Homo sapiens: one gene and its partner. The protein of the gene in region 2 purifies or fractionates together with the protein of the main gene of each other region. This does not show direct contact. Each region holds a gene or a part of one and is shown on either strand. Other genes may lie near its edges.

Evidence for each region.
Region 1: the proteins of DENND2B (region 2) and RNF10 purify together in Homo sapiens (co-immunoprecipitation; one large-scale study listed by IntAct). This does not show direct contact.

The regions. Positions count from the first base shown.
Region 1 is NC_000012.12:120,561,710-120,565,384, forward strand, and holds part of RNF10 (E3 ubiquitin-protein ligase RNF10), read left to right. Parts: intron 1-1,235; coding exon 1,236-1,361; intron 1,362-1,622; coding exon of another isoform or gene 1,623-1,637; coding exon 1,638-1,914; intron 1,915-2,100; coding exon 2,101-2,234; intron 2,235-3,362; coding exon 3,363-3,480; intron 3,481-3,675. UniProt on the Homo sapiens protein: E3 ubiquitin-protein ligase that catalyzes monoubiquitination of 40S ribosomal proteins RPS2/us5 and RPS3/us3 in response to ribosome stalling.
Region 2 is NC_000011.10:8,804,035-8,807,709, reverse strand, and holds part of DENND2B (DENN domain-containing protein 2B), read left to right. Parts: intron 1-3,675.

The DNA of each region.
Region 1 (3,675 bases), on a different chromosome or scaffold from region 2:
TTTGAATTCCCTTCTCCCTGACTCCCAAGGGCTCCTTGGGTAGAGTCCTGTGTATTTAACTTTTGCTTTCTTTCTATAATACGTTGCAGCCGTATTTGTTCAAATGCCATTACAGGCATAAGAAAGGCTACATAGAATTAGAGCTGTCCAGGCTGAGGTGGAGTTAGCTAAATCCTTCCTACTACTCTGGACCTCTGTCTGAGCATAGTTTGTAAAAACTAGGTTAGTTTCATGTTCTTAGATTTCTGTTCTGGAAGTTTTTTGTATAGTGTTGTTTGTGTCAGATTCTCTTTTATTTTTTTTAACTTTTAAGTTCAGGGGTACAAATGCAGGTTGTTACATGGTAAACCTGTGTCATGGGGGTTTGTTATACAGATTTTCACCCAGGTATTAAGCTTAGTACCCATTGGTTATTTTTCCTGATCCCCTCCCTCCTCCCACTCTCCACCCTCTGATAGGCCTCAGTGTGTGTTCCCCTCTATGTGTCCATGTTTCATCATTTAGCTCCCACTTAGAAGTGAGAACATGTGTGCGATATTTGGTTTTTCTTTTTCTTTCTTTCTTTTTTTTTTTTTTTTTTTTGAGACAGAGTTTTGCTCTCGTTGCCCAGGCTGGAGTGCAGTGGCGTGATCTCGGCTCATCACAACCTCTGCCTCCAAGGTTCAAGTGATTCTCCTGCCTCAGCCTCCTGAGTAGCAGGAATTACAGGCATGCCCCACCATGCCTGGGTTATTTTGTATTTTTAGTAGAGATGGGGTTTCTCCATGTTGGTCAGGGTGGTCTTGAACTTCCAACCTCAGGTGATCCGCCCACCTCAGTCTCCCAAAGTGCTGGGATTACAGGCATGAGCCACCACACCTGGCCGTATGTGTCTTTACAGTAGAATGATTTATATTCCTTTGGCTATATACCCAGTAATGGGATTGCTGGGTGAAATTTTATTTCTGTCTTTAGGTCTTTGAGGAATCACCACACTGTCTTCCACAATGATTGAACTAATTTACACTCCCCAGTGTCAGATTCTAAGCAGATTCCAATCCTTAGTGGGTATTGCATGCTTTTTGCTTCCTGTTTCCCTCAAAGTTGAGATATTTAAGCACCTAATTCCTTCCCATTGGGTCTCATTGCCTTTTAACTTTTGGTCCTGTTGAGAGGCCATTCTAAGCCCTTGCCCTTCAAGCTAAGTGTGTGTCTGGAAACTTAACCTTCTCTGGTGTTCTCTCTGGCCACGTTAGACTCGGGAAGAGGCTCTGTCGGGATTGGCCGGAAGCAGAAGGGAGGTCACTGGTGTTGTGGCTGCTCTGGAACAACTGGTGCTGATGGCTCCCTTGGCGAAGGAGTCTGTTTTTCAACCCAGGAAGGTTAGTGTGTTCCTGTTACTAAGTGGCTGCCGTTCCTCAAATGCTGTCATTGAGCTGGTAGGCATTACTGTGAGATCTAAACCTTCTCAAGAGAAGAGGGGACAATGAGTATTTTCTGTATGCTTGTTATTAGTTCTTTCCCCAGGGGTGTTAAATCAGTGAACACGACAGCTAAGATAAACATCTAGGGAGCTTGGCTCTTAGGTCTGCATTTGCCACATTGCTTTCGGAAAGCAGGAGATATCCTTTCTGTTGACTTAGAGTTTGCTGCAACAGGGTGTGCTGGAGTATCTGTCTGCCTTCGATGAAGAAACCACGGAAGTTTGTTCTCTGGACACTCCTTCTAGACCTCTTGCTCTCCCTCTGGTAGAAGAGGAGGAAGCAGTGTCTGAACCAGAGCCTGAGGGGTTGCCAGAGGCCTGTGATGACTTGGAGTTAGCAGATGACAATCTTAAAGAGGGGACCATTTGCACTGAGTCCAGCCAGCAGGAACCCATCACCAAGTCAGGCTTCACACGCCTCAGCAGCTCTCCTTGTTACTACTTTTACCAAGGTGAGGGTGCCGGAAGAGAGGGCTGGGTTGCCGCAGAGGTGTTTCAGAGGTGACCCGGTGCTCTAAGCAGAGGAGCGCCACTAGATCCTGTGGCTTGGGTGGCTTGAGCCCTTGGGCATGGGGAGGGGTGGGGAGCCTCCTGGGGACTGGCCAAGACTGGTGTGTGATAGAGCCCCTTGTCCTCAGCGGAAGATGGACAGCATATGTTCCTGCACCCTGTGAATGTGCGCTGCCTCGTGCGGGAGTACGGCAGCCTGGAGAGGAGCCCCGAGAAGATCTCAGCAACTGTGGTGGAGATTGCTGGCTACTCCATGTCTGAGGTGAGGCCTTCCTGTAGAAATGGAGGGTCAGGCAGCAGTATTAACCTAATCTCTTTGAGGTAGGCCTAGCCATCCTAAGTTCACAAACCTTCAAGGCCTTTAGTTTTTGTATTTTTAGTCTTTCTGTCAGTGATGGTGCTGTGAATTCTTTGTAAGTGAAGTGTCCCCTCAGCATGCCAGGGTTCTGTTAAATCAGTTAATGCTGTTCCCTGCTTCTCTGGTTCATTGATTGTAGTTTGGGGATATAGATATTTCTTTTATTTAAGATGGAGTTTATTTTTGTTTCTTATCCTCCTTATTGCTTGGGAGAAATGTCACAAATTTGTTGTAAGATTTAAAATTAGACTCTTTGAGTACTATAAATTTTTCATCAAACATATGCAGAAAAAGAATAGAAATGAAAATAAATGGGCTGGATGTGGTAGCTCACACCTGTAATCCCAGCACTTTTGGGAGGCCTACTCAGGCAGATTGCTTGAGGCTAGGAGTTTCAGACCAGCCAGGGCATTTCTACAAAAAATACAAAAAAAAATTAGCTGGGTATGATGATGTGCACCTGTTGTCCCAGCTCCTCAGGAGGCTGAGGCAGAAGGATCACCTGAGCTGGGGAGATCAAGTCTGCAGTGAGCTGGCCTGGGCGGCAGAGCAAGACCATGTCTCAGAAAAAAAAAATTGGGCTTCATTTTCTACTATTTCAGGCCAAGTGTCTTTCAATAGGGAGATCTGCTTTATCTTCCTTCCCAGTTATTTATTCTGTCAGTGGTTCCCAGGTTTTTTTCTGTTCTGTTTTTCTGCCAACAAATAACTTTATCTTCTCTGTTCGTCCCCCTCAGCTGTGGGGCCTTGAAAAAATCAGAAACAGCTGATGGGCTTTAGATTATTTGTTGCTGGACTCAGTTCACTCCTTTGCAGTACAAACCAAAAATAACTGGATTTGGTTGCTTATTCCACCTTGCTGTAGGTTGACAGTTTCTCTTTGGCTTTTCAAAATGAGGATAATTGAGCACTACTGTTTCCAGCCCCAGTGCTGGCTGTGTTATGTATATATTGTTGGATATCGGGGTTAGGACCCCCTGCTTTCAGAGTTAGGCTTGCTTTTGTTGAGTATTGGTCCTTTTTCCAATGTAGGATGTTCGACAGCGTCACAGATATCTCTCTCACTTGCCACTCACCTGTGAGTTCAGCATCTGTGAACTGGCTTTGCAACCTCCTGTGGTCTCTAAGGAAACCCTAGAGATGTTCTCAGGTGAGAATGCCCCTGCTCTGCTTCTCTTTATAGTAGGGTTCAGGGATTCTTGTGGCTAGACACCCAGTGGGGGAGGAAACTTATGGAACTGTATCATGAGTCTTAGTACCTCCTAAACACTTCATCTGTTCATCTAGTCCAGCTGGGCCTACTGTTGTGGGTTTAGCTGCTAATACTGGGAGGAGGTAATGACCA
Region 2 (3,675 bases):
TTCCCAGAGCTGAGTCACAAATTGGATCTGTCTATGTTCCTTAAGGATTAAAAAGTAACATTCCTGTTCTCACTCCCTCTTTCCTCCTTCTACTCCGCTTCCTGTACCTTCTCCCCTTGGGCTCTCTCTCTCTCAAATTAGATATCAGTCACCCCGGGAAGATGAAACTTTGAAATACACTGGAGAACAGGCCAAGGACACCCTTGGTTCTGCTGGTTCAGCCTCTTTCCCTGGAATGAAGGGCGGGGTGTACAGATTCAGGAGGGCAATCCAAGTATCATGGCCCCACTGGTAGCCTAGACCTAAGAGAGGCTGTGCCCCACTCCCCACCGCATCTGATTCTAAGAACTGCATTACGGGAGGTCCACCTGGCACCTCAGGGAGATGGGAGGCTCTGAGGCCTGGGCCTTCTGAAGCACCTCCCTGTGGGGCAGTTGGGACTGAAGGATTGAAGAATACATCTTCCTTCCTGTCACTCCTCTTAGCTGTTAACTGTCATTGCCCTGGAAACGTCCCCATTTCCATCGTTGGGCCTAAGAGAGTCGGCCGAGGCAGCCAAGCCCGGGGAACACATAGTTGAGGCTGGAGGAGGCCTGGCAGCAGCCCTTCCGAGCCCTGGCTTGGCCTTCCTTCTGTGCCTCTGCATGGGCTTGGGAGGAGGGTGTGTTTAGGGCAGGCTGCGAGGAGGGGAAGGGGAAATCTGCAGGCAGATAATTGAGTTCTTTGAGTTGGAGGGACCATGGAAAGTGGAGAAGGGGCCAGGAGGGCATAGAGCGAAAAAAGAAAAAGAAAAAAAAAAAAGACCATCTGGCATAGTCTGCAGAGATTTGTCTTTAAAGCCTATGGGAAAACTTGCATTAGTGTGTGCCTTCTCCTGGGGAGGCAGGGGCTGGGGAGGCTAGGCATTTGTTTCATCCTGGAGGGGAGGTGCTATGTGTGTCTGTCTCAGTAGGTGGGTCGGAGGAACTACTGGGTGCATCTGTCTTAGAGGAATATGCCACGTAATATTGTGCTGATAGAAACACCTGAGCTCTCTATTTCTAGCCATAGGCCCCAGAAAGCTCTCCTGGGTGTGTGTGTGTGTGTGTGTGTGTGTGTGTGTGTTTTGAAGGGAGAGGAGGGTGTTAAATGAGTCTAGATTACCTTATTGAAGAATTTCTCCAAAGACCCCTTCTCTTATTTTTTTGGCTCTGATGTCATGAATGTACTGTTGTTGGGGAGGGTGTTGAAACTATCACTATACTCTTCTCATCTAAAACTGCCTGAATGTTAGATTTCACTGTCCTTATAAAAGAGTGAATTATATGCAGTTAGCGTATGAAGCCTTCTTAACCAAAGCAGACCTATTCCTACAGGCTTGTCACGAAACCACCACAGTTTCTCAAAGCTCCAGACTCTTCCTCTGTGTGACCTGTCATCACCAAAGGGGTTGTGTGTGAGCTGGAGATGGACTGTTGGAAATCACATAGTGGATGGAGGATTATTTGGAACTGGGAAAAAATGAGATAAACTGAGGGTTACGGGAGACAAGATCTGAGGCAGGAGGAAGACTACTGGAAGGAAGCAGGAGTGAGGCACTGGGCAAGGGGCCCTGGGCGGAGGCAGTTCTCAGGAGCAGCAGGTGGTAATCGAGAGAAGGGCTGACCTCGGAGGCCTACACAATTTAGCAGAAGGCCAGACTGCCCCCAGGGAGCTCAGGGTGACAGTGTCGTGCAGGCCCTCAGAAGCACTGGAGGGGGTAGGGGTGGCTGGCATTAGGGTTAACACCTCTGTTTGTTTGTTCTTGGCTCAGAGGTGTCTCTGGTGCCCATCTATGCAGTATTGGTCTGTTCACCCATTTAGTCAGTGAATACGGAGTGTCTGGGCCAAGAGCTGGGGAGGAACGCAGAAGTATCAAGTATGGGCCTTACTCCCATCTATGTCATGTTATAATAGACGTTGTGTTGTAGTTATTTCTTCCCCTCTCTCCCCCACTCTGTCTGTGTGATTAAGAGAGAAGCAGCATAGACCTGCTGCAGTTCTGAGTTTTGATGGTAGGGTTAATGACCATCTCATGCTCTTAGGCTGGGAAAAAGGAGGAGGGTCCAACAGACTGATTTCAAGCACGATTCGAATGAAGGAAGAGAGCCAACTGAAGGACTGGAAGTAGGAGGGTGAGGATTCTAGGCCTGTGTTGAAGCTTCTCTTGACAGTGTCAAAGGATGGTGTATGTGGGAGGGAGTCATAGGAAAGGGGAAATGGGAAAGTTGGAAAAAAACTATCAAGTCAGCTATTTTTAAAACTCTAGTTTTGTTCGAGGAACTGACTTTTGGTGTGCTTGTGACTTGGAACACAGGCTACCTTATGGAGTTCTGACAACTGAGTATTGTAGATGGTTTTAAAATGAACTAGCCTGTGGTGTGTTTGTTCAACTCTCAGTGACTCTTAGGTACTCAGTGAGTGCGTGGTGCTGCCTTAGAGCAATTCTGATGGAACCATTTGCATTTAATATGAGTATCTGACATGCATTGCAGTGCACTGCAGTGATGAACAGCTATAGCTCAGGGGTCTTAGAGGCCTAGCTTTAGAGCCTGACCTTGCTGTGTGACCTTGGGCAGGTTATTTAATCTCTCTGTGCATCAGCCTTCTTTGAGGCATCTGTAGAATGGATGTAATAGTACTTGACTTGATAGAGTTGTGGTAAGGATTAAATGAAATGATACCTGTAAATAGGCCAGTGCCTGGTACATAGTAAATGTCCAATGCTTTCCAGTATATTATTATCAACTTACAGCAGCATTTTGAAGAGAGTGGGCTGGTGTCTCTCAAACAGGTTGATGTTACTACGCTGGGAACAAACCAGATTCTTCTTTTAGAAGTAGCTGCTGGTTGGGCGCAGTGGCTCACGTCTGTAATCCCAGCGCTTTGGGAGGCCGAGGTGGGTGGATCACTTGAGGTCGGTGTTTGAGACCAGCCTGGCCAATATGGTAAAACCCTGTCTCTACTAAAAATACAAAAACTGGCCGGGCATAGTGGTGTGTATCAGTAATCCCAGCTACTCGGGAGGCTGAGGTAGGAGAACAGCTTGAACCTGGGAGGCGGAGGTTGCAGTGAGCTGAGATCGCACCACTGCACTCCAGCCTGGGCGACAGAGCAAGACTTCGTCTCAAAAAAAAAAAAAAAGAAGTAGCTGCTATTTTGCATCTCGTTCATCTTTCTGTCAAGACCCCAGGTAGTCTGGTCTGGGGTCTGTGCAGTCCTGGGTGTGTAATAATACAAGATTTCCTAATAACACAGGATTTCCTCCCCACCTCTCAAAGCTGCTTGTGTTCAGTTCCTGCCACTTGACAGACAGCTCCCCATGTCTTATGGCTGCTGCATCAGGCAGAATGATCAAAGAAAGGGCACAGGGAGCCATGGACAAGGTAGGGAGAGAAAGACAATTGCTTTGGAAAGTCACCAGCAGCCAAGGAGGACTGCCCTTTCAGACCTGGCCTACACGTTAGGAAGGTACTTGAGAGTGTCCTTTAAGAGGAAGGAGTAGGGGCCAATGAGATTTTGAGGACACGGCAGCCGCCCACACTGGAGAGGCCAGAAGTCCTGAGTCTGAGGTAGTCCTTGTCAACCCAGCTTCACAGGTTCAGCTCTTTCCTCCTGCTGTGGGATGCTCACTCCTCACAGACGGGGAGACCCGTC